Linked DNA regions of Homo sapiens: region 1 is linked to region 2. Evidence: fine-mapped expression QTL. A gene starts in region 2. The other region holds a variant in brackets. All regions are shown on one strand. Distances are between the middles of the regions.

What was found.
Region 1: its variant is fine-mapped to the expression of PIRAT1 in whole blood (TOPMed, PIP above 0.99).

The regions. Positions count from the first base shown.
Region 1 is chr2:37,824,623-37,829,013 of GRCh38, forward strand. It overlaps PIRAT1 (PU.1 (SPI1) induced regulator of S100A8 and S100A9 alarmin transcription 1), which reads right to left. Exons shown (of 4, transcript NR_110012.1): 3 at 4,311-4,391; 4 at 1,625-3,256. Among named protein-coding and RNA genes, the nearest start is that of PIRAT1, 49 kb to the right of the region's middle. The variant C/G (reference allele first, on the strand shown) is at 2,582.
Region 2 is chr2:37,873,415-37,877,805 of GRCh38, forward strand. It overlaps PIRAT1 (PU.1 (SPI1) induced regulator of S100A8 and S100A9 alarmin transcription 1), which reads right to left and starts at 2,449. Exons shown (of 4, transcript NR_110012.1): 1 at 2,329-2,449.

The sequences.
Region 1 (4,391 bases), 49 kb before region 2:
AAAACTGAGGGTACCCCGGATGAATCACAATGGAGAAAAAGGCACCAAGGGATTCACCAGTTTGGAAATGGCCATTTCTAATCTTCATGTTCCATATATGGCAACACCAAATCCTTTGGAATGGGATGAACACAGAAAAGGCCTGTATGTTCCACCTAAGCATTCTCCTTGCTGCAAGCTCTCTGGCCAGTTGTAGGGCATGCAGCATTGCTCTCTCCCACTTTATTATTTTAAATGCTATTCATATTAAGGAATGAGAGTAACTAATGTTTATGGGAGCTTGTTAAATGCTGGACACTGAGGCATGTTGAGGATTAAATGAGATGATGTCCAGTGCCTCATTGAGGTAAGTGTTGTCACAGTCTCACTTGTGAGGCTAGTAGACTGGATCTCAGAGGTCAGATAACTTTCCCAGGCACTGGCCTAGGAATGGGCTCAGCTGGAATTCAGACAGAGGCAGGCAGACCCCAAGGTCCCTGCTCCTCCCCACTGTGACTCCTGCAAGTGGTACAGACCCATGTTCTGGGCACAGGCATTAAATGGTCACAGGACTATGCTCAGTCTGTCTCACTTTTTATCAGAGAGTGAAGGAAAAGGTATCCAATCTATAGGGAGATGCCCTGCAGATAGCAAGGCCAGCACTTCATGTCCAGTCTTTCAGAGCTTTGTCAGACAGTCGATTTTCCCTTTCTAATGCTGTGACTGGGATGAGAAGGCAAAACAAAAAGAATTAAAAATATAGTATTTCTTTCCCTACTTGGCCCAAAGGAAAGGTTCCGTGGGAAGTTGAAAAACAGATGGTCCAGGGCAAAAATCAACAAGTTTGACATCCAGGATTAAAAACCAGATGGCACTAAACAATCTTTAGAAGCCTCTAGAGGGGCTTCAAAGAAATTGCCCAAAACTCCATGTATGTTTCCATGAAGGCAAGTAGACTTAGTCATACATGATCTTATGATCTGTGGCCAGGTTCTCCTCCACCCAAAATTGTTCCCTGGGATGGGATCAAGCTAAGCACTTTGGGAAAGGAATGGGACCTTTTAGGCCACCAAGAACAGAGAATCCTAACATCTTATGGCTTTAATCAATGCAGTTGTTTCACTGAGTTGACTGATCAGATTAGGCAGCCGCCTCTAATCTTCTCAGGCAGGTCAAGGCTCATAGAGAGCCCAGCATTTGAGGAAACATAAATGTGGTTTTTAGTACGTATGCTGTTAAAGTCCCAGCACATAAACCTCCAGAAGTCACACTTCTCCGAAACCAGTCAGATGTAGAGGCATCTGAATAATGGCTCTTGTAGGGAACCCTGTTCCTGCTTCCTGTTCTTCAGCTGCTTGGAAAACATTGCTGGAACACTGGGATCCACTGAGGGAGATTCTTCCAGAAGTGTCCTGTGTCCCAGACTGTGACTTTTCTAACCAGCATGGACACAGTTGAAATCTAAGCTCCACTGCATCTGCTGCTGCCATGATAGAAACACTGGCATAGCATGTGCTAGGTACCAGGCCCTGGTCTAAACCAGTCACCTATGCTAAAGCACTTTATCATCACAGTGACCCTGGGGGGAGGGTGGTCCTTTGAGGGGACTGATTCATGGAGGTTAAGTAAGTTGGCCAAGGTCACTCAGGTGGTAAAGAGTGTATTAGTTTCCTGTGGCTGCCATAACAGAGTACCACAAACTAGGTGGCTTAAAACAACAGAAGTTTCTCTCTCATAGTTCCATAGCCCAGATATCCAACACTAAGGCATCAGCAGGGCTGCACTCCCTCCAAAAGCCCCAGGGAAAGGTCCTTCCTTGCCTCTTCCAGCTTTTGCTGGCACCAGGCATTTTTGGCCTGCAGCAGCCTCACTCCAGTCTCTGCCTCCATCTTTACTTAGTCTCTTCCGGGTCTGCAACTTCTTCTGTCTCCTATAAGGAGACACTTGTCATTGGATATAGGACCCACCCTGATAATCCAGGATGTTCTCATCTCTGAGAGCCTCAATGTAATTACATCTGCAAAGACCCTTTTGCCTAATAAGGTCACATTCACAGGTTCCAGGGATTAGGAGATACATGTATCTTTTGGGGACCACCATTCAGTTCACTACAGCTGAGCAGCTGGGATTTGACTCAAGCAGTCCAGCTCCAGCACGTGGCCTCCGACCATCACGCCATGCTCTCTCATGTGGTTACTTTTCACAGGTGTCAGCAAAATGCCTGCTCAATGATCTGAGATTTTTTTTCACAAATCATCACAGAGCTGAAATGCTCATTTTTCTGTGCTGCTACTCTGTCCATGTTCCAGAAAGGCAGCACATTAAGTCTACACCACATCACGCATCCCCTGACAGATGGAGAGAATATCAGCAAATCAGATTGCTTTCTAAAGAAAACAGAATCCAACTTTGCAAATGTTTAAAGCTTGCATATTTTCAAAATTTCAAGCAAAAGTAGAAAACCTCATTACCTCAGATCACGGTTGACAAAACTACCATTGACAAAGAATTATCCTACATGCAATGAAAACCCAATATAAGACAGTGAGTGATTGTCCAAAACGTGGGTGTTAGGTCACTACCCAGACAACAGCAGAGTTGA[C/G]GGTTCTACCCTAGCTCTCTTTTGATGAGGGAAAACATTATTTTTAAATGAAGCCTGCCACTTCAGTGTAGAAAACATAAAGATGTGGACAGTCACCATTGTCATTTAAAGGGTGAGCTGTATTTCTTCTGAAGTAAAGTGATGAGTCCAGGCAGTACACTCACTCTATCAGATATGATTTGAAAAGCTGAAAAATAAACCTCTGACAATAAGATTTTAGGACAGAAATGCTGCCAGGGCTCGAAGTACATTTCAGAAGAATAAAAAGAAAGTAAACGATGCCAAAGGCCAGACAAACAAAAGGAAAATTCCTACTTCGTTTGTTCTCATGAAATGCCACAGAAAAATAATCTGTTAGGCAGCTCTTCTGGAGTCCAAGTTCTTGCGCTGTGCTCATCTCTTCTTTCTGTTAAAGCTCGGTGCTTTGCAAGCTGTCGTTAAATTGCTTACACGGATGGACGGGGCCAAGATGGTTTTCAGTCTAAAGCCAGTGAGAGTCTCAAGGCAGATTCTGAAGGCCTTGAACCACCTGAGCCTGGCCAGATGGATTCTTCCTTTCACTGTTGTGACCATTGCTTTGGTGTCAGAACCCTATGGGAGAGCTGAGTCCATGACCAGAATCCTCATGCCTTTCACAACTCCAATTAGCCAAGAGCATGGCACGGAGCAGAGGTGCTGGTGGGAGAAAACAACACATAGGTGAAAAACCTCGGGATTAGGCATTTCAAACAAGAGGCATTCATTTTGCCCGACACCCAGAGTTGCCCCATAAACAAGCCAGAAACTCAACCAGGCGGTGACGGAACAAGGAATGGATGAGTGACAAACTGGGCTGTTGATTCTGTTGTAACTGAGGCTTGACTGTATTAACAAGCATGCAGTGATTAAACAGACCAGCACCAGAATTTTAGCAGCTACCTTGAAGCCTGCTGACTGACACTGTCCCTGGAGCCCCTGTTATAATGAGGTCCTTGTGATAACTTACTCCCTTGGATAGAGTCCAAGACAGGCACGTGCCCTGTGGAATTCCACACTGTAACCAACCATACTTCAGAGAGATTCCAGAATAATGATGGTATTGCTTATTTAGGCTGAAGGTTATCTGCTCCTCCTCCTCCAGATCCCTGCCAGCCAAGGGAAGAGCATCTCATTGGTGTCAGATGACAAGGGTCTTGTTCCCTTTACTGGAATAAGCTTCTTATGTCATACAGACTCTGGAAGTCCTGAAAAGCCATCTGTCTTGGCCTTTACTTTAGGAAAGAAAGTATCATAACCTGCCACAGCAGTGGGGACAGCTGAAGCCGGGGGTTACTATTCGCCCTTGTTACTATTCATGGAGGCTCTTAGGGAAATGACCAAAAAGCTCTTTATGGCTCTTGCAATTAATCCTGAAATTCTGGTTGTCACTTGTGGGTAGAAACATATGGTTTACAAATGGGTTGATGATTATTATTTCAAGGAAAAACTAAAACATTATAATGAGAGTTATAACATAATGGTGGGACAGTATAAATAGGGAGAGAATTTGTAGTGTTTTCTTGTTCGTTTTGTTACATGAATAGACAGCTAGGGGAAAATGGCATTCTATGGGGAACTGATGGGATTTATTTAATATTTATTTAAATAAATTTATTTATTTATTTATTTAGACACCTCTTTTTTCCCGTCTAAGTTATAAACTAATTAAGAGATGGACAAAGAATAAGGTAAAGGAAGGTCAAAATATTACCTTGGGCAGGGTGCAGTGTCTCACACCTGTAATCCCAGCACTTTGGGAGGCCAAGGCAGGAGGATCACTTGAGTTCAGGAG
Region 2 (4,391 bases):
TGGAGCACCTGACCCTGTCTGCTTGTCTCTTTTACCGGCAAACTATATCTCCCAAGTTGGCTGGCTTTTACCTTAGGGGTCAGGAGAGGGAGCAATCAGGCCAGAAGAGGGACAGGAGCATCAGCCACCTAAAGAAGGAATGGTAGCAACAATGAGACTGTTTAATCTTTCTAATTGCTGACACCTTCAATACAGTATCTGATATTCATTCAGTAGTTATCAAGGGTCACTTCTGTGCAGCCACTGTTCTGAACTCTCGGAATACAGAGGGAAAAAGACAAAGTGCCTGACCTCATCTAGCTTTCATTCTAATGTAGTAGCTAGGCAATAGACACATAAACACGTAAATATATACTAGAAAGCCAGCTAGTCAAGGGCATGCTTATCGTTGTTTTTTGGTTACCCAGAATCTGAACCTCCATCCTATGTTTGAGATTCCCTACCTCATGGAATCTGGTGGATAAGCAGAGCCCATGGTCCATTACATAGAATTTGAAAATGCCTGATAGTGGTTTTATCAGCCTCTCTTGTAGAAGGAGCCAAGGCCTGTGGCCAAGGCTCCACCAGCCAGACACACTGGCCCACAATTTGAGTTAGGAACCAATGACTCAAGGACAAAGAGACTGAGAAAGCCCTCATAGGAGATGGCAGCAGCTGCAGAAAGATGGGGATTCCAAGGGTGCTGGTGACAGCGGGTTCCAGCAGTGTTAGTATCTGGGACGGTAGCATTGGTGACATAACCAGTGGCAGCTGGGGCAGCAGAGATCCCACCAATTCGTGCAATGCGTGCACTCTTCTTGGCTATAAACCACTAAGCCTTCCCAAACATTCCTGGAGCTGTCAAAGTCTACACATAAATCCTTCTTCTACTTAAACCCGCCAGAGTTCCTTGTGCCCTCATCTAAGAGCTGAACACAAGTAGTAACAAGTGCTCAATCAAAAGGAAAGCCAGACGAAGGCATGGAGAGTGATGAGAGGCTACCTTAGGTAGGTGGCCAAACTCAGCCTCTCCATGGATATGGCTTTTAAGTCTCTCCAGAAAGCCCGAGAGCAAGGCCACCTGAAGACCTGAGGGAAAGAACTCCAGAGAGAGGACACAGTGCAAAGGCTGGGCAGTGACAAGCTGGGGGGCTGAGGAATACCAAGAAGGCCAGTGTAGCCTGAGCTGAGACAGAAGCTAAGTCAGAAGGACAAGCCAGGGCCACAGTTGGTGAGGCTGGTTAGATTGTCGTGTGGAGTTTGAGTGTCATGCTGCGTGTGAGGGAAGCCCCAGCTGGTTTTAAGCAAGGTGACACGGTCTGGTAGTTGAAAAGATCACCCCGGCTGCTGTCAGAAGAATAGTCTGTAGCAAGACAGGAGTGGAAGCAGAAAGATCAGAGACTCTTGCAGAGGTTCAGGAGCCAGGTAGTATGGGTCTGATCCCTCTAGGCCGAGGGCGTTTGAGTGGCGGTGGTGGGAAGAAGAAAGATGAGGAGTAGATTTTGAAGGTAGAGCTGAGAAGCCTTGCTGTGTGTTAGATGAAGGGTGTGAAGGAAAGAGACAGTTCGGGACCGAGCCGCTCTCTGAGATGGGGAAGATGAAGAGAAAGGCAAGCTGGTGGGTGGAGAAGTCAGGATCAAGAGTTTGGCTTTAGATCTAGTGAGTGGGAAACACCAATGAGGTGGAGTGGAGACAGAGTCTGCAGGGGGATGTAAGGACCTGGATGAGGTGGGGGCGAGCTGGGCGCTGGAACTAAGTGTGTGGGATTCCTCGGCACGGGGAGGAAATGTACAGCCATGAAGCTCAATATGCTCACTCAGACGAGAGTGTGGTTCGAGAAGGGGGCTCAGGACAGAGCGCTGGGGAACCAGGGATGAAGAGATCACAGCGAGGAAGAGAATCCAGCTAGGGAACTGCAGGGCGGGAGGAAGAACACAGACTACGGCGTCCTGGAAGCCAAGAAAAGAAAACAGGGGCCTTGGCAATGACCCTAGGCACTTCCAGAGGATGCTTGTATCAAGCAGGTAAGGGGACTGGGGCTCCCAGAGGATGGGCCACCCCGTTTCAGTGCATGGCCCGGCGCCTCTTTAGAAGAGGAAGCCCCTGGATTCCAGAACGTGCTGGCTCCACCCAAGGCAGACGGCAGTGAGGCCACACACTATTCCCAGCCCCTTTCTCTCTGAAAAGAGCCCTTTGTAACTTCTTTGAGAAGGAAACACCTCCGTCAGGGGAGGAACATTATTTGCTTCCTGTTAGAACAGACTTTTACTTAGGATCAAGCTCGGTGTCAGCCCCATCCCCACAGGGAGCAATAAGGGAAAGAGGAGGGAGGGGGCCGCAGACACTCACTTGTGGGGGCTGGTTTCGCAGGAACGGCTCCGGAGAGCTTGAAGAGGGGTAGGCTGCAGGCCCACAGCCGCAGTCTCTCTCAGCTAGAAACCCTCCTCCCTCCTCTGCCAGCCTGTCCTCCCCGGGCTCCGTTCGAAAGGCCTGGGAGATAGGGAGAAGGCTGGTCAGCCTGGGCGGTTAGTGGCTGGTTTAACACTTCCTTGCCTGCCAGCCCTTTCCCAGGAAGACTACAGCCAATCATTCATTCATTCAAAAGCTCTTTGCCAAGCACCTACTCTGTGCTAGGTCTGTGCCCAGCATGGGGACACAGTATTAGGCAAAAAAAAAAAAAACAAAAACCAGACATCCCCCATCTGCCCTGAACTTACAGTCTAGTGGGATAAATTAAACAAGGCACGCAAACACCTCTACAGCCACAAATGTGATAAGGCTCTAAGTGAATATCGCACATGACAGTGGCCCTGCTGAAGGCCAGGCAGAGGTTCCTTCTTGAGGAAGGACGTCTCTGAATCTCCAGAAGCCAATAGAATCTGTAGCAGCAGAAGAAAGGGTCAGGTTTCTAGAACTGCCCACTACGACTTTAGAAGCTGACGCATCTCTGTTATGCCGCGGCTGCGATGTTTTAAGTCCCCAAAGCCCAGAGCACATCGTGGAGCATGGAAGTGGTTCACTGAGAAGCTGAATCTAGTCCTGGGGCTGCTGGTGTGGAGGGTGTGTTCCGCTCTTGGGGCAGCAGCAACAGGTGCCGTGAGAGGCTCAGAGCTTTTGAAGCAGAAATGGCAATACTCTACATCTTCAGCAAATATTTGGGAGTCTTTTGTTAAAAGAAGAGCAGAATAAATATCTATGCCTCTTGTAAAACCCAAAGGAAAGCTCTCAGATAGGCTTCTTTAGGGCTATGACTATCTCTGCAGCTTCACTATACTGAGTTAAGTCTGTAGAGCATCTGTAACCCTAGGCATGTGTGTCCACAACCTCCACACGTACACAAGGACACTCCTACAGAGGACAGGCCGTGCGGACAGTTAGGGGAGGACAGTGGAGGCCGCTTCAGTTCACTTCGGTGCTTTGGATTCAAGTGTTTTTCTGTTTCATTTTCTGGGTAGCTGATTATTAAGCTAAACACTCCTTTGATGGTTGAAAATACATTAGTCCCTTTTCTTGCACGAATCTAATTCACCAAAGCCTATTAAAGTGCTTTTGGACCAATGAGGAAATTTAATGCTCAAGTATTTTATTCTGAATTCCAATTTTCCTTGTGTTATGATTTTACCTATAGGTGGTTGGGTTGATTGTATGGTAAAGATGAAAAAAAGCATATTTGGAAAGAACATGACAATTCTCAAGGTGTTTATACTACTTTACTGTATTTGATCCTTGCAACTGCCATGTGAATTAGGCAAGAAATATTTCAGTTTTACAAATGAGAAAACTTCTGTCCTGAGACATTAAGTGATATACTCAAAGGTCATATAATAATTTGTTTTGTTTTTATCTTGACTACCATACTCCTCTATACCACCTTCAGGACTCTGGAAGTCAGATATATGTGAGTTTTTTGTCAACTAAATTCATAGTTGTCTTAATATTCATCCCTTGCTAAAATTAAGGTGCAGAAATAAAATCTGTCTAATAGAGAAATATAAATCCATCTTTTGTCTGGATAATCAAATTTTACTATATTTTGTTTTAATCCTGAGAATGAAATTTTACAAATAGCTCAGGAGGTTTTCCCTAGAGTTCCAAATAAAAGTGTGTGGATCATATACACGTTCTGCTTAATCACATGACGGTTCCAAATTTTTAATTTCAATCCTTCATTACGATGAAAATTTTTGCGTTTTTTTTCCACCAGCTCTTTGTTTTGTTTTTCAATGGCTCAGGAAAGGAGAGGGGTGTGGGAGACTCTGTCTCTTTTGACAATCACCAGCGCCATCTACTGTCAAGAAATAAAATCGTGACTCATTGTTAACGCGTCAATGAACATTAGGGCTTAAAGAGGGAAAGACAATTTTATACCCCAGTACTTACTGATAAATATAAGTTCATGTACACATATTTTT